Regions from separate parts of the Homo sapiens genome. Here all the other regions are linked to region 2. The links come from fine-mapping of genetic effects on gene expression. A gene starts in region 2. Each other region holds a variant in brackets. All regions are shown on one strand. Distances are from middle to middle.

What was found.
Region 1: its variant is fine-mapped to the expression of DGCR5 in anterior cingulate cortex (GTEx, PIP above 0.99). The same link has a PIP of 0.9 or more in cerebral cortex and prefrontal cortex.
Region 3: its variant is fine-mapped to the expression of DGCR5 in lung (GTEx, PIP above 0.99).

The regions. Positions count from the first base shown.
Region 1 is chr22:18,987,054-18,995,226 of GRCh38, reverse strand. DGCR5 (DiGeorge syndrome critical region gene 5) reads right to left here. Exons shown (of 6, transcript NR_110533.2): 2 at 7,327-7,470; 3 at 4,303-4,507; 4 at 3,210-3,410. Among named protein-coding and RNA genes, the nearest start is that of DGCR5, 21 kb to the right of the region's middle. The variant C/T (reference allele first, on the strand shown) is at 4,436.
Region 2 is chr22:18,965,884-18,974,056 of GRCh38, reverse strand. It overlaps DGCR5 (DiGeorge syndrome critical region gene 5), which reads right to left and starts at 3,589. Exons shown (of 6, transcript NR_110533.2): 1 at 3,399-3,589. RefSeq lists an enhancer at 3,677-4,508.
Region 3 is chr22:19,032,982-19,041,154 of GRCh38, reverse strand. It overlaps DGCR2 (DiGeorge syndrome critical region gene 2), which reads left to right. Exons shown (of 10, transcript NM_005137.3): 9 at 1-97; 10 at 2,034-4,869. The coding sequence ends at 2,290. It also overlaps the pseudogene CA15P1. Among named protein-coding and RNA genes, the nearest start is that of FAM246C, 7.5 kb to the right of the region's middle. RefSeq lists an enhancer at 3,863-4,483 and a silencer at 4,967-5,136. The variant T/C (reference allele first, on the strand shown) is at 5,029.

The DNA of each region.
Region 1 (8,173 bases), 21 kb before region 2:
TGCCCCAGGGCTGACTCACCCTTCCAAGACTGTGACAGAAACCAGGGCCACTTCACATCAGAAAGCCCTCGGGAAGGATGGTGGCCTGGGCCCTTGAGCTACAGCGCAGCCCTGGGGAGGGGCCAGGGGAGGCCACCCAGGCCTCTGGCTCTGACTCCTAGACAGGAGGGTCCCACATAGGCCACTCCCAGGCTGGCTGCCACCCACTTCCTGGCTGGATAGCACTGTCCTGCCGAGGACAGCACTCGGGCCACTCCCCAGTTCATCTGCAGGCCCACAATGGCCGGCTCACACTCCCAGGCCGCTTAAAATGCCAGAGGTTAAACATTAGCCGCCCAGTCTTTTATCCTGCAGCCCAGCTTGTGGCCCTGAGGGAGAGTGCCTACCGTCCCCAGCAGCTGTCACCTTCCTTATGATCAAAGCGGGAGGAGAGCGGCACCCTCGCACAGACCATCTCTGAAGCGAGGGGCAGACTCCAAGAGCTCCTCAGAGCCTGAGCTTTGGGTTTGCCATCGCGGGGTTTAATGCACAACCAGGGCTCTCTGAAAACCCTTGTAACGGGGATTTGTTATGGAAATCTTCACAGACTCTGGCCAATCCTGGAATATATTTTTTTAATTGGTTGATTTGCTTCGTTCAAAGCGCTTAGAATGGAAGATTTAGTTTGAGGAGGGGCAGGTTTGGGGGTAGGCTCAGCGGGCATAGTGGCCACAAGAAGATGCCCATCTCACACCTGGAGACGTCCATGAGCACCTCGAAGCTGGCCGTGTGGCTGCACTGGCGTACGACATGGGTCCGGTTCCTGGACAGGAGCTTGAAGCCCCGGGCAGACCACCCTCCCGTCCCACTGACACTGCGTAGAGAAGGGAGAAGAGGCAGGGGTGAGACGGTTCCCTCCGCCCATGTCTGTTGGGGGCAGTCTTTGCCCGGCCCTGGGGACTCCCAGGCCATCCTGGCCAAACCAAACAGCAGGTATAGTGAGTGCTGAAAGCCCGGCGCCCTCGCAGGCTGCTCCCCACCGTGTTCCTCACCGGCCCCCTGCACCGAACAGCCACCCAGCTGCAAGAGCAGCAGGCTCGCTGCCGCAGAGGCAGGACCATGGGAACAGTCTCCCTTCCCTTCTGTGTCTCTCTCATCAGGGCCTCCAAGGAGCACCCTCTGAAGTTCAAGTTCTACATGTCACCTAGCAGCAAAACTCAAACGGGGCCGTCTTGCGTCCACCACGTGCCCCGCTGCTGGAACCACCACCACCCCGGGTTCACACAGCTGCGATGCACTCCTCTGTCTCTTTCTGAGGGTAGATGCTTTCAGAAATAACATCTCGCCTTCCTCTGACACTTCCATCTTCAGGTGGCACAATGTTTTATGGGAATTGCCCAGAAGCCAGGGCCCCATTATGACTCCTGCCTCACTGATGGGAAGCCCCAAATAACAAGCTGTTACGAGGTGTGTCTCGGCTTCTGACAGGGCCCTGCCCTCCGCCAGACTGGGAAAATCACATAACCTCTCAGATCCTTAGTTTGCTAATCTGTAAATGGGATGTGAACGTTAATACATTTGCCACAAACTTTACAATCTGGAAATCATAGGTGCAACATAAAGCAGACAGCAGGTCATTAGAGCTGAAGCTAATTGCCGGAAAAAAGATGAATGCCCGGGACAGAGAGCTGGGCCTGACGTCCCTCGTGGTGAAAGGGGTTCCTTTCTTCTCTCTTTTATAAGCCAAGCGCCTCTTACATTCCAGGTACTGTGCTGGTTGCTTATGAACTAGAACTTGGAAAGCAAAGAAGCAGGAGAAGAATGAGGCTGGGCTGAACTGGCTCCTGGCGTGGGCTCACTCACCATAGCGCAGCCCCCAGGACAGCCCCCACTCATGGCTCTCCACTGTGCCCAGAGGAATTGTGATGGGGAGAGTGTTCCTGCTGCACGGGCGCCCCCAGATGCACAACGTTCAGCAGATTGAAGCCTGGGGGTGCTCACGCTCTTGACTCCCTGAGTCCGGCACAGTGTCTCCCCTTCCTGCCACTCCCTCCTGGTATGTGGAGAGAGAGCAGGTCTTCCCCTCCCAGATTGTGCTCCCATCCTTCCACCACACCCCAGTTCTAATGTTTTCTTCTAAACAGAGACAGCAAAAGTGAAAACAAACCAGCAGAGAAAAAGCAAGCTCCCTGTAAAGACAGAGCAACTCAAGTAAGTCCGCACCTCACATAAACCATGTAGCTAAAAAAGCAAAACCAAAGCACAAACACTACTGGCTCCCAGCAGATGAGAGCCACAGCATGGCTCTGAATCCACTATCTCATACATGGGTGAATCCACAGTCTCATGTGTGGGTGAGAATCATTAATTTTGCATTTTTCTAAGTACGAAACGCCTTTCCCTCACTTGAATGGATGCTAGAACGTAGACTCTCGTGCACCACCTCCTGCCTTCGCCACTCTGACGGTGCTTCTGAAACAGGCCAGATAAACAGTGCTGTGGCAAGGTGTGGCCTCTTGTGGGTAAAGCCAGACCCCAAAGCTGGGCTGTGTCGGCCTCTCGGGCAAGACTAAGGTCAGGGACCTTTGTCTGGTATGGGGACCCCCACACGTAGCTGGGAGTTCCCACTGTCAGCAGAAGGGCTCCTGGGCCCAGTCTCTGGGTTCTGCCTCCCATGTGTGACCAGAACAGGCCTCTGTCTTATCCAGCAGTGAACTGGGCACTACACTCGTGTTGGCCACTGCATCTCGGGAGTCCCACAAGTGAGAGGCCCCTTCCTGGGTGTCAGCCTTGAGGGATCTCTTTGTGCGCCTGCATGTCTGTGTCTCCACGTGCAGGTCTGCGCGCATCTGTTCACACAGGTCCACGCTCACCTGTGTGTGGGCCTGCATGTGCACACATCTGTGTCTCCACGTGCAGGTCCGCGTGCACCTGTGTGTGGGCCTGCGTGTGGGCCTGCGTGTGCGCACGTGTCTCCACGTGCAGCTCTGTGTGCGTCTGTGTGTGGGCCTGCGTGTGCGCATGTCTGTGTTTCCACGTGCAGGCCTGTGCGCGTCTGCGTGTGGGCATCTGGGGGGGCTCTGATGCACCCACAGAAGCAGAGCAGGAGGCTCACTGCCCCACAGGGGGCTGAAGGGGGAGACACAGACCACAAGAGACTGTCCCCGTGGGACGATCTGCCGCTGAGCCAACAACCCTGCGGGTTCTCTGTGTCTTGGCAAAGCCCTCACATGAAGATGCAGAACTCCCGGCATCACATTTACGCCAGGGAATGGTTCCAGAACACACAGACAGGCTTGGTTCGCTTCTCCATCTCCAGCAGGGTGAACTCCACCAGGACGGGCCTCTCCAGGGGTCTCGGAAGTGGAGCCCCCTCGCTGTACACCAGTGCGCTCACCATCGACGTATTAATGATGGGCCAGTGAGGCAGCCTGAGGTCAAGAAGCCAGAGCACAGGGACAAACATGATTAGGAAACATTTGCTTAATCCCATGCACAAATGCCCTGAGGACATGCCATGGATGTGTTTCTAGGGGAGACAGAATCACACTCCGAGAGCTTGGATCTGTGGGCCCCACGGCATCTTCATCCCCAGAGCAGGTTTCATCACTGACAGGGCACACAGGGAGATGTGTCACCTTTGGGTCAAATTAGGACTTCAGAAATTTAAAAAGAAAGAAGGCACAGGTGCAAAGATGTTACAGCCCATAATAGCTAATGGCAGAAACACAAGGAATGGCTTAAATGTCCAGCAAAAGACACCAAAATAATGACAGCTCATGGGGGTCAATCACCCAGTCACTGAGAACCACGTGAACATGAGGACCCCAGAGCCAGGGAAGTGGGAAATGGCAGGAGGACGAAGGGCGGATCCTCGGGCTGCTCCCACCAAGCAGGCCCCAAAGCTGCTTGTGGGACATTCATCCTTTCCAGCCAGGACTGGCTGAGCAGCCCTAACCCTGGGGCCAGCAGCAGGCACTACCCATGACAGCCTCGGGTCGGGTGTGTGGGGAGAGAATCGAGTCCCTCGGGGCACAAGATGGGGTGTATGCTTGGGAGGGGGCATTTCTGACAGAAACACTGGGAAAAGGCCAGGCAAAGGGTGTGCAATGTTCCAGGGTGTGGTGTCCTGTGGCAGACCCAGAACCTCCCTCCCAGGGACACTGCAGGACAGTGGTCTCTGTCTCTGGGCCAGGGTCACAGTGAAATGTCACTGTGAAGGCCTGTGCTTGATCAGGATCAGGATTTTGACTTGTGGAATCTCTTTTGACTTAGGAGCCTCTGGAATGGGCCCTCTCCATGTGCCCCATACCCAGGCCTTACCAGAGGCTGCGGCGGTTGGGGTCATAGGGCTCAGGCGGGAGCTGCCCCGGGGTACAGTAAACGATGACCAGAGTGAAGGTGAACTAGCCAGTGTCATCAGGGTGTCGCTTTCACCTGCTGATCGGGGCCTCCC[C/T]CTCGGTGCCAGGCCCTGGGCGTGTGGTCTGCGGGGTGGTCCTCCGGCTGGCTGGCCTTACCAGGGGGCCTTCTGCAACGTGAGCAGAGCGTGAGGACTCCGGCAGGAGCACCTGTGTTCCCCAAGACAGCTCTCAGTGCCAGCAGGTGCTTCTCAAAACCCAACAGATGTCCCACCGAAAACAGTATGGTGCGTCCTCAAAAAATCAACCACAGGATTTACCACGTGACCCAGCAAGCCCACTTCTGGGTATACACCCAAAAGAACTGAAAGCAGACGCCCAGATACGTCTTCACCCCTGTTCAGAGCAGCACCATTCACACAGGCCGAAAGGTGGAAACGACCCAGGCATGCGTCAACAGGTGAGTGGATAAACAATGCGTGCTCCATCCACACAACAGAATATTACTCAGCCTTCAAAAGGAGGGAAAGTCTGACGTTTGCTACAACACAGGTGAACCTAGAGAACATTACGCTCAGTGAAATAAGCCAAGCACAAAAGGACAAATATTGTATGATTCCACTTATGGGAGGTCCCTAGAGGAGTCAAATTCAGAGACAGAAACAACGGTGGGCACCAGTGGCTGGGGAGTGGAGTTGGTGTTTTGTGGGCTAGAGTTTCAGATCTGCAGGATGAAAAGAGTTCTGGAGATGGACTGCTTAAACATGAATGTATCTGATGCAGTTTTGAGGTCTGGCCCCTCCAAATCTCATGTTGAAATGTGATCAGGGTTGGAGGTGGGCGTGGTCGGGGTTGTTTGGGTCATGGGGGTGGGTCCCCCATGAATGGCTTGGTGTCCTCCCCTTGGTAATGAGCGAGTTCTCACTCTGTTAGTTCCAGAGAGAGCTGGCTGCAATGGAGGGTCGGGGACCTCGTCCTCTCAGTTTCAAGCATGACCCCACATCAGAGTCACCCCTCTTTTTAAGACACATGAGGGCCAGGCACGGTGGCTCACGCCTGTAATCCCAGCACTTTGGGAGGCTGAGGCGGATGGATCGCGAGGTGAGGAGATCGAAACCATTCTGGCTAACACGGTGAAACCCCGTCTCTACTAAAAATACAAAAAATTAGCTGGGCGTGGTGGCGGGCGCCTGTAGTCCCAGCTACTCTCGGGAGGCTGAGGCAGGAGAATGGCGTGAACCCGGGAGGCGGAGCTTGCAGTGAGCGGAGATCGCGCCACTGTACTCCAGCCTGGGCGATAGCGTGAGATTCTGTCAAAAAAAAAAAACAAACAAAAAAAAGACACATGAGGTAACACCATATACCTGACAAAATCCATTTACTAAGAAGGTTTCCAATTTTAAACTGTCCATTATGGAGTTTACCTTTTCATGTCCTTTTTATTTGGGGAAGTTTTTAGTAATTGTCACAGATCTGTAAAAAAAGCACCTTAAGAAAGTTCAGAATGTTCAAACTGTTTTGTATCATAATCTCAACCCAGGAGTGAAGATTTGTACATACACAGACAGCATTCTTGTTTGTTTTTGTTTGTTTGTTTCTTGCAGGGAAGGGAAGGTGAGTCTAAAATTTCTATTTCTATTTAGAATCAGCTTCCCCTGCCTCCCCCGACCCAGACAGGTTCTTGCTCTGTTGCCCAGGCTGGGCTGTAGAGGCATAATCACAACTCACTGCAGCCTCATCTCCTGGACTAAAGCAATCCTCCCGCCTCAGCCTCCTGAGTAGGTTGGACTACAGGCATGTGCCACCATGCCCAGGTAATTTAAAAAAAAACTTTTTTAGTATAGATGGGGTTTTCCTATGTTGTCCAGATTGGTCTTGAATTTCTGGGCTCAAGCGATCCTCCCCATATCGGCCTCCCAAAGTGTTAGGGTTACAGGCGTGAGCCATCATGCCCAGCTAGAAGCAGCTTTGAACCCAGGAGGCAGAGGTTGCAGTGAGCGGAGATCGCACCACTGCACTCCAGCCTGAGCGACACTGTGAGACACCTTTTCAAAAAAATTAATAATAATAAATAAATAAATAAATAAATAAATAAATAAATATGTCCAGCCAGTGTCAGTGTGACAGTTGTGGTCATTTTGATAACAGCAAGGGTTCAAGAAAGCCCTGGGAGTGATGTCTGATTAAAGGAACTGTCCCCCCAGTTCTTGCTGTCAACATCTTTGACAAGTTCAACTTCACGGGTTCAACTGCCCATCAAAGACAATCAGCTCACATACAAATTTCAGTTCTCTTTTCTTTCTCAAGTTATCAGTTACAAGGCTGAGTATCCCTTAACTGAAATGTTTGGGAACATTCTGGATTCTTTTTTTTTTTGAGACAGAGTCTCACTCTGTAACCCAGGCTGGCACATCTTGGCTCACTGCAACCTCTGCCTCCTGGGCTCAAGTGATTCTCATGCCTCAGCCTCCTGAGTAGCTGGGATTACAGGTGCCCACCACCACAGCTGGCTAATTTTTTGTATTTTTTAGTAAAGACGGGGTTTAACCACATTGGCCAGGGTGGTCTCGAACTGCTGACCTCAGGTGATCCCCCTGCCTCGGTCTCCCAAAGTGCTGGGATTACAGGCATGAGCCACTGTGCTCGGCCTGGATTTTGATTTTTTTTTATTTTAAAGTATCATTTCATACTTACCCTCCAATGAGCACTTCCTTTAAGTGTCAGGTTGGTGCTCAAGAAGGTTCAGATTCTGGAGCATTTCAGATTTCAGGATTAGGATGCTCAACCTCTACCTAAGCACTTGGACAAAACAACCTGCTGTCACCAATAGGACTTGGTGCCAGCGAACACTCGGAACACTCCGGCCCCGGATCTTCAGTGCGCAGGGAGTATGGCGTGTTCATCCTCCTGGGATGCCCGCAGGGGGAGCCCTCCCCTCCCTGAACGCTGGGGACTCCAAGGGAAGTAGCAGGTTTCTAAGCGGTTCTACCTTTTTCTTCAGGTGGTTTGAAGAAGTTGGCTGGGAAGGAGATGGAGGACTCCAGCTCCCTGGGGAATTCTTCATGAATGGCGTCGAACCATGGGACTCTGGCTCCCGTGAAGTTGAACTTGTCAAAGATGTCGACAGCAAGAACTGGGGGGACAGTTCATTTAATCAGACATCACTCCCAGGGCTTTCTTGAACCCTTGCTGTTATCAAAATGACCACAACTGTCACACTGACACTGGCTGGACATATTTATTAATTAATTTATTTTTTATTATTAATTTTTTTGAAACGGTGTCTCACAGTGTCGCTCAGGCTGGAGTGCAGTGGTGCAATCTCTGCTCACTGCAACCTCTGCCTCCTGGGTTCAAGCAGTTCCCCTGCCTCAGCCTCCCGAGTAGCTGAGATTACAGGCACACACCACCATGCCCGGCTAATTTTTTGTATTTTTGGTAGAGAATGGGTTTCACCATGTTGGCCAGGCTGTTCTCAAACTCTTGATCTCAAGTGATCTGCCTCCCTCGGCCTCCCAAAGTGCTGGAATTACAGGCATGAGCCACCGTGCCCAGCCTACTTATTTATATGTATTTTTTAAGACAGGGTCTCACTCTGTCACCCAGGCTGGAGTACAGTGGTGCAATCTCAGCTCACTGTAGCCTCAACCTCCTGGGCTCAAGCGATCCTCCCACCTTAGCCTCCTGAGTAGCTGGGAATACAGGAGCATGCCACCACACCTGGCTAATTTTTTTTTAAATAGAGATGGGGTCTCACTATGGCACCCAGGCTGGTCTCGAACTCCTGGGCTCAAGCAATCTGCCCACCTCAGCCTCCCACAATGCAGGGATTACAG
Region 2 (8,173 bases):
GCTGCAGAGCAGGGACACTGAGGGGTGCAGAGAGGGCCCCGAGAGGGCATCTGCACAGCTGCAGAGGCAGCAGGCAGCCAGGCCGGCTCCTGCAGACCCCAAAGCCCAGGCCCTGGGTGGCTGCAGAGGGTCAGGCAGGCCAGCCTGGGGATCAGAGGTCAGGCTTGCCAGAATGGGGGCGGGACGGCATGAACCTCATTGATCAGACAGTAGCCAAGCGTCGGGAGCCCTCACTAACCCTGTGCCAGGGCCGGGCAGGGCGCCTGGCTCACACATGCATTTGTTCATTTCCAGGTCATCCTGAAACTCCCCGTATGCTTCCTGTTCTTGACCCCTTTCCCAGGTGCACAGACCAAGGCTCCCGGTGAGAGGTTCCGGGCCACAGGCCCAGGACAGCAGGAGGGCTCCTCTGCCTCCCACCCGTCCTGTCCTCACCAGCTGGACCCTCCTGGTGTTGCACCGGCTGCACAGGGCCGTCCGTGCCACAAAGCATGAATTCAAGGCTGGGGCAGGGACGAGGAGAGGGCAGTGCTACAAGGCTGCACTGTCCTTGGGCAGAGGGAGGCGGAGGGCACGGTCCCACATGCCCTGGCCCTCACAGCCTGCCTGTCACTCACAGCAACAGCAAACAAACCCCAGCCCCTCCACAGGCTGTGGGCCAGTCCCCAGCCTCCCAGGACAACAGGACCTTCCCCCACCTTCCAGGGCCCCAGCCCCTGTGGGGGTGTCCTCCATAGACCCTCCACAAGCCCTCTGGCTTTCAGAGACCTGCTGGGCCAGGCCCTCCCTCAACCTCTCCCCTGCTTCTCACTCCATGCAAACCTACGTTTCTGCCAGTCCCAGTGGAAGGACCCTGGCACAGGGAAACTGAGGCTCAGGGGTTCCACAGACCCCCAGGTGAGGAACAGGGGGAGGGCAGGGAGGGAGTGAAGGTACTATGGGAGGGTCTCCCAAGCTGGGCAGCATCCCTGCCCTGTCCCCTCTCCACTCACCTGTGGCCTGAGTTGCCTGACTAGGGGCTTTTATTGTCCCTTCTGCAAATGGATGGGGTGAGGGGCCAGCTGGCCATGCAAAGGTCCCAGGAGGACTCTGCTGAGTTGGGGTGTGGGGAGGTGTTCTGGGCATTCTGAGGCAGAAGCACCAGAGTCGGAACTCCACAGGGAAAGCCGGGCCAATTCCGCCCAGCCTCAGCCTGGAAGTGCCCCGATAATCCCTGACCACTGGCCCATGGTGCAGGTGAGGAAGACTGAGGCAGAGAGGTGACCTGTCACACCCAAGGTCACACTGCCAGCAGGTGGCTGAGCCAGGACCCAAATCCAGGTCACGGTTCTGCCACGGCAGGCCCTGCACGTGCCCCTCTGCCAGGTGGGGTCTAGGTGCTGATGGCCACCCATTCCCACCCCCGGCATGGGAGCTCACTTCCTCCTCACCTCAGTAGAGAAGAACAGGGAACAGTACCCCCTTTATAGATGGGAAGACTGAGGCTTAGAAAAAGAGACTGGCCAGCCCCACTGCTTCAGCTGCCCCTCTGCTAGTATGTTTCACCCTCACACAACCTACAAGGATAACCTGCTGGTCCCCACTCTATAGATGAGCCTCTGGTGGTGGCCAGGGGAGCAGGAGGTGTGGCCTGCCAATTGAAGCCCCAGCCCAGGGCCCTTGCCACAGTGCTAGTGGGCCACCCTTGCCCATCATGCAGCATGGCATCCATCTGCTCAGCACCCTACACAACACCGGAGGTAGGGGAGCCCACCACGGAACCCCTCACCAAGAAGGTCCTCACCATGGAGAAACTGAGGTACTGGAGGCGGGGCCTCTGCAGTCACGCTGGGTCACGTGCTCCAGTCAGCCAAGCTGCAGCGGCCACCAAGGGTGCCCAGGGTCTGGCCTGTTGGTCACAGTGTTGACCTCATGGCCTGAAATGGGTCTTCCCTGACCAGACAGGTTCCAGCCCACCATCATCTATCACTGCCTCAGCCCTGGTGGGTGCGGAGTGGCTGGGAGACCCTGCCCCTCACACCCTGGGCTGGGGGCATTCAATGAGCCCCCAACACACATTCCAGGGCCTCTGCTCCAGATTAGGCCACAGCCTGTCTAGGCACACAAGGGGCACCCACACCCTGGAGGCAAAGAGACATATGCCTATGTGCTCGCAGGCACACATGATCACGCGCACAGACACACGTGCAGATGCATACCAAGTTACACACACGCACACACGCCCGAGGCGGGGACCCCCAGGACACGGAGGCAGGCAGGCAGAGGTGGGGCCCAGGATGTCTTGCCCCTGTCTGTGGGCCTGGCCTCCCCACTCAACAGACGAGCATGTGGGTGCGGGAGTGGGTATTGTGAAAGGGGCCCCAGCATGTGCCACCCGTGGAGACCACAGCAGGCATGTCGCGTACATGCATGTGTGGCCGTGGGCGTGCAAGCGGGGGCGAGGACACAGATATGCACCCTCAGAGTCCGTGTGTGCACCCAGTGTTCGTGCATGTGTACACTGGGGTGGCGCTGGCACGCATGTGCACCAGAGGTGTGCAAGTGTGCAGTCCGTGTAGACATGTGCACGTGCAAGGAAACGTGTGTGCAGCCTGCGACACCATGGACATCAGCAGGGCAGCCTGGGTGGGCACCTGGGGAGCACCCTCCAGGCAGGGCATGCCCAACTCACATGGAGCCCACCCTCCCTTGCCCCCCACTGCGGGACCTCACACCCAGTGGGGCGGGGGAGTCTCACGAAGGCTGCCAGGGAGGGGATGCTGATTGCCCCACCACCCCTGATTCCCCCAGCCAAGCCTCTCAATGTCCCTCGGGCTGCGGATGTCTGGGCATTGCTGCCTCCTCTCACCGCCCGCCCTGGAGGCAGCGTTGGGACAACCTTGTCCCCCACGCCCTCTACTGCCGCCAACGCCCCCATTGATCCCCCTGAGGCCTGACCTCAGAAAAACGGGAGGTTCTGAGCCCAGTCCGCGAGGCGGGGGCGGAGGCGGCCCGATACCTCCACCTACTCTCGGTACCCGCGTTTCTGCAAAAAAACCCGCTCATTAACCCCTTCGTGGCCGCGGCGCCGAGGCCGGACCCCGTCCTTCCAGCCCGCGGCCCCCACCCCGGACCTGGCCCAGCCTCGGGGACCCCCGGGCCGCCACCCCCGGCCCCGCCATCGCCGTCAACTTACCCGGGAAGCGGCAACTTTTCCTGCTGCCTCCGGCTCCGCCCTCCCGGGGCCGGGGCGCCCTTGGCCCCAGCCTGGCGCGGCACTGCGGTGGCCCTCCCGGCCGCCCGGCTACGCTTCCCCAGCCTTGGAAGCCCTGGACGGGCCCTGCGGCTCCGAGGAGGGGCGAACCACCCCGCTCTGCGCCCCGCCGCCTGCTGGGCTCTGGCGCCGCGTGGACACTCACCTCCAGTGGACGCCCTCTTCATCATAGGGGTCAGGCGGAGCGGGTCGGGGACCGAAAGTCGCTTCGGGGCGGGCGCCAGTCTCCGGCCCAGCCCCGGGCCGGCATCCAGGCGCCGCCGCTCCGGCCCAGCCCCGGCCCGGCAGCGGGTCTAGGCTCCGCGCGCTCCGCTCCGCCCGGCTCGGGCGGGGCTCGGGCCGCGGGCGCGCAGGGCGCGGGAGGCGGCGGCGGGCGGGGCCCTCACCTGGGCGCAGGCGCCTGCCTGGGCGGGGGCTGGGGGGCGCGGGCCTGGGCGGGGGCTGGGGGGCGCGGGCCCAAGTTGGGGCGTGAGCGGCGCGGCTGGCCGGGGAGCGTAGGCCGGGCAGCAGGAGGTGCTCAGCCCACCCGGCCCTAGACAAAGCCGCGCATTCCTGAAGAGGCGGCGGCCCTGCAGGCGGCGGAGGGGATGGCGGCTGGGGCCATTGAGGCCTGGGGATGGCCTCTGCGCGACCCACTCGCTTCCTGGCCTCACGAAACCCATGAACCCCCCGCCCCCCCCCGCCCCCTGCACAGAAGCCCCTTGCTGGAGCACGATCGCCCCCATTTTTCAGTAAGAAACAGGCTCAAGGCTTAAGAGCGTTCTGGGGGCCCTCTTGGGCCTTTGTGGCCCTCTCTGCACCACCCCAGGGAGGGGACCCAGGCCTGATGTTACCCATAACCCTGCAGGGGTCCCCCACCTCTTCCTTCCTGCGGAATGTGGCCTCCAAACCCAGAAGACGCTCTCCGAGGCCGCCTGCTTAGTATCATCCCCCACTCTACTAAGCCAGCCCCCAGCGGGGCCGGGGGGGCGTCATGGAGCCAGAGAACCCAGTGACACCCCTACACACACCACACAGGGTGGGGGTGTTCCTTCTCCGTCTTCTGCTCGGGGGGCATCCGATGATGATGAGCTCCTAAGCCCATCCCGGGGTCTTCAGACAACTGCCAGGCTGTCCCTGCACCTGGAGGAGTGCTGGGAGTCAGCTCAGCTGGGCTGGGTCCTCCCCAGGCCCACCCTGCATGACAGGACCAGGGTCTTGCAGGCCAACCTGGTGTCAGTCTGTAGGACCCTGACTCAAGGACGGAGTGGGCCAGCCTGAGGTCTTGATGGCTCCCCTCAGAGCCCAGGTCCACTGATATGAAGCAGAGAGACCTGGTGACTGGGCAGCCCTGTGCTCTCTGCCTGCCCCTGGCCATGGAGGTGGCCCTGAGGGAGATGAGCAGGGCACAGGGCTGGTGACCTGCCTGCCTTGTCCAGAGGAAGTGAGGACCTCCCAGAGCCCTGGTGCTCCCATCTGATCCCAGTGGCAGGCAGCTTCCCAGGGTGGAGCCATGCTGGCCGGGCCCTCTGCCTGGTGTGGAGGCTGCACTGCCCACATGCCTCTGGCTGCCGCTCTGTGGCCCTCATCACCTTGGCCTGCTTTATCCCTATCACCCTTGTCCCAGCCTAGGCTTATGAGGGCATTGTGGAGTGCATGCCATTCCCAGCCACACAGAAGGTGAGGTGGGGCCCAGACACCCCCAGCCACTCTGTCCCCTGGCCTCCTGAAGGGGTGGGCTGTGCACACACTGCCACCTCCCCAGAGGGTGCTGGCTGCCGAGTGCCACCAGCTCAGCCCCTGAGGTGGCTCAACAGGTCCTCCCAGAGCCACACCAAGATGTCATCACCCATTGCACAGATGGGGAACCTCAGGCGAAGCTGACAGAGCCAGTGGGAGGCTGAGGCCTGACCCCTAAACAAGCATTCTTCCTCCAGGGTCCCTGCACGCAGCAGCCCCTAGACTAGGAACTGAGCTCTCACCACAGGGATGTATCAGACCCTAGATGAGTCATGAGGCACTGACCATCAGTCTGAGGACAGCGCTGGGGTGGACCAGGCTCCAGTCTCGGGCTGCTCTGTGCTTGCAGAGAGGGCTTGAGAGGACACTTGCGTGCTTACTATGCAGGCGTCTCTTCAATTACCAGTGACCCAGAGCGGCCCACTACAATTGAAGATTGTGACCCCACACCCTATCTCATAGGTTTAAAGCCCCTCCCACCCCTCCTGCAGCAGCCAAAGTGACCATTCTGGGGCATGGGATGGGCATGGGGGGAAATGGGGAGCCAGGGCTAACCTGGAGGCTTCTGGCACCACAGCCCTCTCCAGCCATCAAGTCCGGCTGTTCCCAGCTGCTCTGGGCTGGGACCTGGGCCTCCACCTCCCCACCTGTCTGTGCAGTGGGAGCAGGCCCAAGGCCCACAGAGGGAGCGCTGGGGGACCGGCTGGTTTCCTGTGTCCGCCACCTCGGTCAGCACCTTGGCCAGCGCCCTCCCCACTGGAAGCTGAGCCCACTCCTGGGTGCTAGCTGGAACGATTAGGTGTGGGCCAGCGCTGATAGGGAGTTATGGGGGTGCAGAGGCAGAGTTGAGCAGGGCTAGGCAGCCGGTCGGTCTGCTACCAGCAAGGCACAGCCCGCTTCTCAGGCTGTGCATGTGGGAGGGTTTGGTAAGCCACATTTTTCAGGGTGTAGCCAGGTCGGGGGGCAGCATGGGGAGTGGTGTACTCTCTGGGCAGGCGACCGCGGAGCCATCACCCCCCCAGGGCCCAACGGGCAAGGGAGGGAGGGCAGCTGACGGCTGGTGAGGGGCTAGCAGGGAGGGCTTGACAAGGGCTGGAGCCCCTGGTCAAGGGGCACAGCCAGTTCTATCGGGTCACCTCATGGGAGGAGCCAGGGACCCTGTGGGCAGAGCCTGGCCGTCTGCTGCCCGGAGTCTACACCAGTCAGTTCCTAGGAAGCCCCAGCAGGGGTGCTGGGAGGACAGGCCATCTGTGCCCAGCTGATGCAAGCTCCCAGGCTTTCTGGACACGTGGCCCTGGGGATCAGGAGTGAGCTGGAGACTGCAGACAGCTGTGACCTCAGGGCTGGGCAGACCTGTCACACCCTGCCTGGACTGGGTCAGCAGGGCCACACGGGCATCTGCCCGAATCGTTCCCCACCTCACACCCACCATGTAGGGCACATCCTTTGCCAGCTTCCCCAGCCCACCACCCCCCTCCAGTGAGGCCAGGGGCTGCCTCACCTCCCACCCCCACCCCCAACCTGGGGCTCGGCCTCCACGACCAGCATGCCGGTCATGAGGGCCCTGCCCAGCTGTGTGACCTCGGCCCAGCCCCTTGGCCTCGCTGAGCTTGCACAGCATGTGGACGAGGCAGACGCTAATGCCTCAGGGCCTGGTCAGCTGGTCACTGTCCCTCCTTTGTTCACCCCTCCTGTCCCCTGAGAGGATCATGCAGGGTTTTCACTCAAAACTCCATGCCTGCCCATAGAAGCCAGCTTGAGATGAGGGGACCTTTCGCAGTGGCCCGTCTTGGGCTGACAGGGACACGGTTCAGCCTCCTTGGAAGGTCCCTTCTTCCCAGGGCTTCGGGAGGCTCATCTCCCGCCTGGAGAGATAGGCGTGCCATGGCTTTCCTTGGCATGCCTGTGCGGTTCTCACGGACATCCAGGCCCTCGGTGTCTCCTGGGGAGGGATGGGCAGCAAGGAAATTGGGTCTTTGCTCCACACATTCTGGGCCACTCCAGGCCAATGCAAGGAGAGACCAGGAAGGAAGCTAGAAGGTCATGCGGCAAGCACATGCCTGCTGCCCAAGCGTGTCAATGTGACCAACCCTTCCCTGCACTCTGAGTGGGCGGCTAGGGATGTGGTCCCGGTGCCAGGGAGCTGGGGGGCGTCAGCCTGCCATCTGCTCTCACCACAGAGGGTGGCTGCATGCCCAAGGCCCGAGAGGACTCTGTGCCAGGCCTGCTGAGTGAGTCATCCCATTCAGTCCTGCAGTGTAGACACTACTACCACCACCCATTTTCCAGACCAGAGAAGGAGGTCTGGGGAGCTTAGGTGGACCCACGTCTTGGCAGCCTCTCTCAGCCCTCTCTTTGCCCACAGCCTCTGCCTCCTCCAGAAGCCTCTCACCATCCCCCATCCCCAGGGCTGCAGAGGGTGTCCTGGTCTTCCCCCATCAGTTCTGCACCCCTGAGGACTCCCATCCCTAGGAGTCCCTCTGCCCAACTTTGGTGCATGTTAAGCCATAATTAATATGCTTCCTCATCTCTTATTCATCAAAGCCACACGCAGCAGCAAAGGGGGCTGGCACAAGGAAGGGACCGACAACCAAATCCTGGCAGTGGCCCCAAGAATCCCACTGGGCCTGCCCATCTCCAAATGCCTCTGACCCTTCACTAGCAAGGGCCTCCTCCCACAGGGCTGCCTCCCCCAGCCCTGGACTGGATCCCTTGTGGCCCATCTCCAGGATGGGAACCTGAACAGAGATGAAAGGACACTCGACCAAGTGGGACATGCCAGGCTGGCACCTGGACCCCTGGTCCACCACTCTTCCTGGTGCCCAGAGGAAGGGGTGAGTCCCCAGGGTTCCTGGACCTTGAGATGAGCTCGGGCCACTTGTGTTCGCCAGCAGATGGGCTCAGGGTCTTCTCTCAGTGGGCACAACCAACTTGGTGGCCTCTCTCTGGGGAGGCCGGCTGGGTGGGGCTGGGGAGTAGGAGGCTTCTGGTCCCTGTAGGCACAAATCTGGTGCAGGGGCAGAGCTCCGGAAGGTGGGGGTCCCTGGGCTGTGCCCAAGGCATCCGCTGTGGCTTCACGCCCCTCCCCCACCCCTGCAGGGAGTACGGATCCTTCTAGAGCCACCCACCTGGCAGTGACAGCTAAATTGGGAGCTGCTGTTAACACCAGGAGCCCAGCAGGCAGTCAAACCTGGGTTGGGG
Region 3 (8,173 bases), 67 kb before region 2:
ACGGCATACAAGTACCCGGACATCGGCCAGCCCGACGACCCTCCGCCGCCCTACGAGGCCTCCATCCACCCGGACAGTGTGTTCTATGACCCTGCAGGTGCCTGACTCCCCAGGGAGAGGGAACACCTTGTCAAGTAACCTGGCACGTGGGGCTGAGCCCAGCACTCTTGCCCAGCTGCAGAGGCCTAGGGACCTCACTTCTTTCCGGCTTTGTCTTTGGTTTTTCCTTTAAGGCTTCTCCTGGGGCTGCCCGTGCAGAAGGGGTCCTGATCTCCCTGCCTGGCCGCCCTTGGCAATCTGTGCAGAGAGCTCTGAGAAGGCCTGGGACCCCTCCCTCCTACCTCCCTGCCTTCTGTGAGCACCTGTCATCTGGGCAGCCCTCAGGGCCCTCAGCCCAGCTCTAGAGACCTGGGGAGCCCGACAGTGGTGGTTGTGAAGACAGGGCTGGCCCAGACCCAGGAGCCAATCACTTGTCTGTAGACACATGAGCTAGAGACACCATGGTGACAGCCCCTCCTGTCGTGTCAGGAGGCAGCTCTGTGAGGTGGGAGGAAAGCGTGGCTTCTGTGCTACTGGCCCATAGTTGGAGCCTACCACCCATCTGAGAGTGGGCGCCATTCCTCAAGGCTGTGTAGCTAAGGAGTGGCAGGCCCCTGACCCCTGGCCTGTCTCTGTCTCTGTTGAGCAGTGCAGGTGTCCCATCCCATCTCCCTGTGCATTAGGCCCCCTAACACACACAAACCTGTAGTATATTTGGTAGGCAGTGCCACCCCAAAGTGGCTGGCTCCTTGCATGCCTGCCCATCTCGGCAGAATGGGCATTGTGAGGCTGGGGCTGCTGTGCCTAAAGGTCTCAGTCCTGTTCGTTTGTTTAGTCAGCTGCCACAGCTCTTGCATGATCTGGGGGTGCAGAAAAGACTTGCATTTGACCCCTGCCCTCATGACACAGATTGTCACAGTCTTCCAGGGTAGGACCAGCTTCCTGCAAGGGATGGTGGTGGGTGGCAGCAGATCCCAGACACCTGTGTGGGCCAGGCTGCAGAGCAGGGTGGGGGCTGTGAGGGGCTGGCCGGGAGGGAGGTGCATCACCGGGGCCTTGTGCTGTTAGCTTTCAGAGACAGCCTATGGTAATGACAAGCAGGCAGCCCAGGCGCAGTGGCTCACACCTGTAATCCAGCACTCTGGGAGGCTGAGGCGGGAGGAGGGGTCTCACTATGTTGCCCAGGTTGGTTCGAGACCAGCCTGTGAGACCTCCTTCTCCACAAAAAATTCAGAACTAGCCGTGCATAGTGGGCACAGCTGTAGTCCCAGTTACTGGGCAGGCTGAGAATGGAGGATCACCTGAGCCCAGAATTCAAGGCTGTCATGAGCCATGGTCACGTCACTGCACACCAGTGTGCAATCTTTTAAGATCCTGTCTCTTAAAAGAAAAAAAAAGCAAGTAATAAAGATCGGGCAAAACAAAGCGAGTCGACTGCCTACCACACAGCCTGCCTTGGATCAGAGCTTCCTGCAAACACCTGTGTGGTTTTCCAGGCCGCTCACTGCAGCCCTGTTGCCCACACTCCGGTTGCCACATTCCAGCTGCAGCCCTGAATGTTCTTCCACCCACCTGGGCCCAGTGCCTCCCTGATGACAAATGCCCCTGCCTTCTTGCTGAGCCGGGTCTTCACCTTACTGAGTCTGAGACGGTTTCCCTTTGGGCCCCTCTGTTCTAGTGACTGCTGGTCAGTGTGTCTCCCCTACCTCACACCGATGGTGGGACAGGCCCGTGTCTGCCTTTGTGAGATGGGCCCTGCACCTTGCATATACCAGGTTCCCAGCCACAGGGGGCAGTAGGTACAACAGGTGTCATGTGGGGCAGGCTCCTCCTTCAAAATCTGAGGCCCGGGGGAGCCACCCAGGTCCTGCTCACCACCCAGCTTCAGGGGGGCCTTCAGGCAGGAGGAGTGTCTCCTGGTTTTGCCTAGCTCCCCTGCATCCCCTGTGCCAGGCCCGTACCTGCCTCTGACACCCCTCTGTCTCTTCCTGCAGACGATGATGCTTTTGAGCCTGTGGAGGTCAGCCTGCCAGCCCCTGGGGATGGTGGGAGTGAAGGTGCATTACTCCGGCGCCTGGAGCAGCCTCTGCCCACTGCGGGGGCCTCTCTGGCAGACCTGGAAGACTCTGCCGACAGCAGCAGCGCCCTGCTCGTGCCCCCTGACCCTGCCCAGAGCGGGAGCACCCCAGCTGCAGAGGCACTGCCAGGGGGTGGCCGCCACAGCCGCAGCTCCCTCAATACTGTGGTGTAGACGGCCTGGCCTGTACCCCAACGGTCTGGGAGCACCTGTCTGTTGTAGAAAACACCGGTCCCTGGGGAGACTTGAAAGGCCCCTGTCCCAGCCTGGACGCCACGCACTGCCGCACGTCACTGGCGGGCTCGCGTGTGTACATAGAGACCACAGCCCGCCTTCTGCCAAAAGAAGTGATGGCCTGCACCGAGCTTCCTTGAGGGCTTCAGAAACATGCATAGCTTTGGATCACTGTCTTCTCCTTTATAAATGGCAGAAGAGTGACAAAATTCATTCAGACCGCACATGTTAGAGGCAGGGAATGAAGAAGGTACTGTGGGCCATGGCCACACCTGATGCGTTTTTGGTGGGCTTACTTGGTGCAGTGTGCTGTCCAGAGAGACCTGCTGACCCAGTCTGGGACAGGCACAGTGGGAGCTGCCACAGTGCCCCTTGCTGGCCGCCCTCAGGAGGGGGCCTCTGGACCGTCAGTGTGGCGTAGGCAGTGGGTCTGCTTCAGGGAGGCAGCCTCTTGACTTTGTCACAACGGTTGCACTGAAGATGGCCCCCACAAGCCCAGTTGTGAATATCAAGGTGACCCTGCCCCTGGCTGGGAGCTCCCCTGGGGCTCTGGAACCTGAAGCCCTGAGAAGGAGAGCTTGGAAGGAGGTTGAGCTCTTCACTGTGTCTTTCCATCTGGGCTCTGCAGCCCAGCTCTGTGGCAGGAGGCCTGACCCCACCCCATCAGTCCCTCTCCCAGCATTGCTGTGCATGGCTCCCTCAGGAAGAAGCTCTGGAGTGGGGCCGAGGCCCCAGATGCTCTGCTGGGGTCTGGGGACTGAGCTGCCTCCTGTCTCTCCACTCTGGAGCCCTGGGCTCTTGCCTCCTGTTGAATTGCCCCTGGGCCTGCCCCCGGCCCCATTTGTGCCATAAAGGGTTGCTTCATTGCAGGAGGGGTGGCTGAAACCACCATCCTGGGCTGCATCTATCTCCTTAAAGTCCACTCCTTACATCACCGCCACTACTGCAGCTCAGTGCCCAGCGGCCGCATGCACACCTCCCGGCCCCTCCTCAGCAGCGCAGGGGCTGGGGGCCCTTCCTGGCACCCTTTTGCCTGACGGACCCTGTTGCCTGCTCCTGGGCAGTGGTTTTGTTGCCTGACACAGGGCCTTTAACATTTCTGAGGTTTGGAGATTAAGCGGGTTCTGTGCGATTTTTAGCACATCCATATCTTTTCTACGTTGAATGTCTGGATCTTTCCTTTGTATGTTTGTGTCTCTGTGTGTGTATGTGGCCAAGCGTCTGCAGGTGAGGGTGGCACATGGAACTTCACGGGTCACTGGGGGCCCACTCTTCCAGGGTCATCGATGCATCCTGGGCTGTGCTGAGGCAGTGCTGTCTCGCTCAGTCTTTCCAGACCAGCGGGGCAGCACCTGGGAGGCCTGTCTGAAGCATGCAGTTCTGTGGTGCTGCTCGGGGATGGACTCCATGCACAGTCCACTTCTTGACACATTCTCACACTGTGGCTGGAGACCCATTTTTTCCATCCCATGTGGAATGAGAATCTTGAGTTGCCCACAGACAGACTTGACCTTTGTGCCAGAACTGTCCAGAGCTGTGAGTTTTGTTACTGAATTGCCTGTCCCTGAGCTTGGCCTGCTGGAGCATGATGCTGGAGGCTGTGTGCGGGCAGGCTTGTGCTCCCCTTGGAGAAGGGCTGCTACTTAACAAGGAAGTCCTGGCCACAGGAGTCCCCTACTGGCTGCAGAGGACGAAGCAGGAAGCATGCCGTGGATCCCACATGCACTGGGGCAGGGCAGCCAGGTTCCAGAGCAGCAGGCATGTGCATTATGGGTGCCAGGTGGCCAGTGAGGGCCCGAGGACCACGCAGCAGAGTCCCCCACGGGCCTGAGCCTGAGAGCTCAGAGGATTCCTGCCAGGCCTCAGAACTGTGTGTGCGGGACAGGGTGGCTGGCACGAGATGTGTGGGACTGGGACGCTTCCTTTGGGGACCAGAGGAACATTAGGGGCCGGTCAGACACGTAGGGGGCAGTGAGGAAACGGGGTAAAGTGGACCATGCAGGCTGCAGAGGGTGGGCCTTGGGCTGGCCGGGGTTGCTGGGTGGCCCCTTCCCCATGGGCCTCCACAAGCACTCAGGCCACTGGCACGTTGGGCCAGGCAGAAGGTCCACATGGCAGGGCTGCCTGGAACACCGCTGCCACTGTGGCTCCAGGAGGCCCTTGGGAGCATGAGGAGAGCTGGACTCGCTCATCTGTTCTTGCACCACCATCCAGAATGCCCCCTTTGCAAGGCCTGCTGCAGTCCCCAGTCTGACCAGCAAGTCCCGGGGTCACCCTTGCTGAACCTTGTGCTCCAGGGGTCCTCCTCCTCTAGGACCAGCTTGCCACGGTTTCTCAGAGCCCAGGTGCCCTCTGACCTGCCATGCGGAGGTGGGATTTGATACTGTACATTGTCTTGATGCCTGTTTTTTTATGTTTTCATTAAGGGTTTTTAGTTTTTGGTTGGGTTGACACTAACTTTTCTTAAGATGCTGTGAGAATCATTTCATCCAAATGCCAAATAAACTTGTGTTCCGGAAGAGGCATGGTTAGTCCTTGGTGTGGCCCCCACGGCTGCCACAGGCTAAGGTGGAAGAGGCTGGGTACCCACCTTTCAGCAGAATGCACCTAGGGTTTGCAGCCCTTGCAGGCGTCCATCAAACCCCCTGAGGACCAGGCAGAGCTGAGCCTGGAGCCCC[T/C]AGGTGGAGTGTGCAGGGAGAGCAGCAGCCCTGAGCTGCCTACAGCTATCCTGCAGCACCCAGCCCTGCTTGGGGCATCGGCTGCTGCCTTGGCAGGTGTTGCTGACGTGCACAGGATCCACATAAAGGCAAGGCTGCTTGACACCATCTGGGAGCTAGCATGGGACGGGGTGGTAGGGCAGGGCTTGGAACCTGGCCGTCAGCGCCATTTCCTCTAAGCTCCCCTCATCATCCGGGTGGCTGGAAACAGCCCCTCCCTCCAGTCCAAGCCACCTAATGTTACAAAGTAGCCTAGGTCCTCTGGGGCCTCTTCACTCATGTCCAGCAGTGCCATCTCTAGGTCTCAGAGGGTAGTGGGCCCAGGAAGTGTGATTGCATGCCCTGCTCTGGGGGCACTCCAGATGTGTATACTGGGGGGACGTCCTGCGGCCGGACACGAGAGGAGTCAGGGTTAGGAAAGGAACTGGTAAGTCCCTTGGCAGGGATGGGAGCCTCGAGGATGTGGCCCCTCATTTTTTATCCCATCTGCTGGGGCAGGAGTGGAGTGGTGGTGTTGAGTCCCGAGCACACAGGTCACTGTCAGCACTCTGGACAGAGCCCCGAGCCCTGCCTCTGGGTAGGGGCTGTCTTCCCATCCCCAATGTGGGTAGGGCCCTGCCCTCTGGCGATTGGAAAGAGGCGCAGGGTGCAAAGAAGTCCCCTCCTCTGACCTCCTGCAGGGCTCCGTCTTGGCCTGGATCCGCAGGGGGGCCTGGGTAGGAGGGAGGCTGTGGTCTTGGGATGGGGTGGCAGTTCCGGGCCCACAGTGGGGCAAGAGACATCCTACACCTTCCTCCCATCCTTGCCCCGAAAGTCATGGGCACTGGGGTCCAAGGTGCCCTCACTATTTGACCTTTCTTGCTGGTGGCTTTGGTGTGTCATTCTGGTCCCCAGCCTCTGTTTCCTGGACTGTAAGTGGGGATAATAATAGGTCACCCCTCCCCTGCAGGATTAACCTCAGCGATTGTTGCTGGCATCAGTGCAGCCCTGGGACCAGAGCACACCTGGGTGAGTTTGGAGCGCTCGCGCTCTTCCTGGTGGCCCTGCCTGGGCACCGACCCCTCCCATCCTCTCCTCAGTAGCCACGCCCCTAGCCCAGCTAGCTAATGAATAAATATGTAGTAGCCAGGCCAGCATCCTGGCTGCGTGGTCTAGCCACTTTCTAGTCCTTCCTAGCTGCGGCTGCCACTGAGCCACGCACGCCCCTGGCATCATGCTCGCCTTGCGGTGCAGCTGGTGTGGCGCAGACTCTGAGAGTGAGCACCAGGACTCTTCCTGTCTGGCCTCCAATCTACCCTCTTGCCATGCTCCACCACCCCTTAGGTCTTGCCACTGGGAGTGGGGAGGGACTGGGGAGAGAAAATACTGAGGTAGGGGTGACAGGAGAGAAGGTTCTTCACTGGCCTCCCCTGGCCTAAACCCCTGACCTACTTCATTCTTGGACCCCAGCTGATGGGATGGGGCTTGGAGAGGGCCCAGATGACTGGCCTCTCAGCTCAGCCTCCTGCCCACTGTCTCTATAGGTGCCTGGTGCTATGACTCCCAGGACCTCAAGTATGGTGAGGACAGAGTGTCATGTGAGGCTGTGTCAGATCAGTCTGTGTCCTGGGACCACCAGAGCATGTGCCAGTGGTGCAAGAGTGGCCAAGAGACAGTCTGCACCCTGCACTCTGTGGCCTTTGCAGGTTTCTGTCTGTAGTCGTCTGCCCCAGTAGACTGACTGGGCATCAGGTGCAAGTGCGTGACTGTCCCCCTGTGTGTGAGTCTGGGCCTGCTGTGATTGCCGGTCCCGAGTCAGTCAAGGCTGGTGTGCCCGTTACTGTGGCCAGCCCAAGTGTGTGCAGGTGATAGAGGTCCCAGTGTGGGTGTGCAACTGTGTGCCGGAGACCCTTCCACCTTCATCTCACCATGGGGCAGCCAACTGGGAGACTAGATGGATAGGTCAGATGCAGGGTACAAGAGAAGGGGGGTGCTGTGACCTGTTCAGGTGTGGGGGAAGCAGGGAGCTAGGTTTCCTGAGGCTGGGCTATCCTCTGGGTGTATGGGGGCCACTCTCTGCTGCACCCCCAGGCTGCCTCCCTGACCCCCCCCCCACCCCAAAGGCCCCAGTCCTTGTTCCAGCAGTCCCCACCCACTGGAAGAAGCTGGCCCCCTGCCTGTGGGGGCCCAGGCCAGTCCCTCATCAACATTGACTTTCACAGGGTCCGGCGGAACTCTACCCTAGGGCCCTTCATCTTCCGAGGCTATGACTCAGCACCTCCAGGCCCTTGGACCCTGGAGAATGACAGCCACACAAGTCAGCACCCTGTGGTCAGGACCCCTCCTAGGCAGAGGCAGGAGCCCCACACAGGGCATGAGAGCTCCTGCGTGTACACAGGGACCAGGACCCCCTACACACGGGAGCTGAGACAACCTACAGGGCCAAAAACCCTCCACAGGGGCTAGCTTCAGAGGAAAGGAGCATCCTCACACAGCAGTCCAGATGCACCCTCTGTGTAGGTGCCAGGTCCCACCTTACAAATCACAACCAGCCATGGCCCCTGAGGACCAGGAGTCAGGGTCTCTGGCAGGGCCAGGATCCCTGACCACACACAGCTGGGCTTAGAGCCCCACACCAGGAGGGCTGCCCTCTGCCCTCTTCCATGCCATGCTGGGTGTGGGGGGGGGAAGGGTTTCCCCTGCAGTCTGTGGAGCTCTGCTCTGCTGACCAGCAGGAGCCATGGACACCATGGGTTCCATTCCATGGAGGCAATGGGGCCGCACTGGGGAGAAACCTGGCCTGAGGAAGGGCCTCTGCTCATACCCTGTGCCCTAATGGCACAAGATGGACAGGTGGTGAGGTAGAGAGGGTGTCGTGTGCCTCCTCCCCTTCATTGCTACTCTGAATGGACACTGATCCTCAGAACCACCTGGAGATTTGGGAGGCTGGGCTGCTGTTGCCTGTCTACCGCGCACTGCAGCTGCACTTCAACTGCCGGCGGTGGGGGGGCCCGAGGCGAGCAGACTCGGAGCACAGCCTGGACAGGCAGCGCCAGGCTATGGAGGTAGACTCGGGAACAAGGTGGGGTGGCCGGAGTGCTCCCACGGAGGTGAGAGAGAGCAAGGT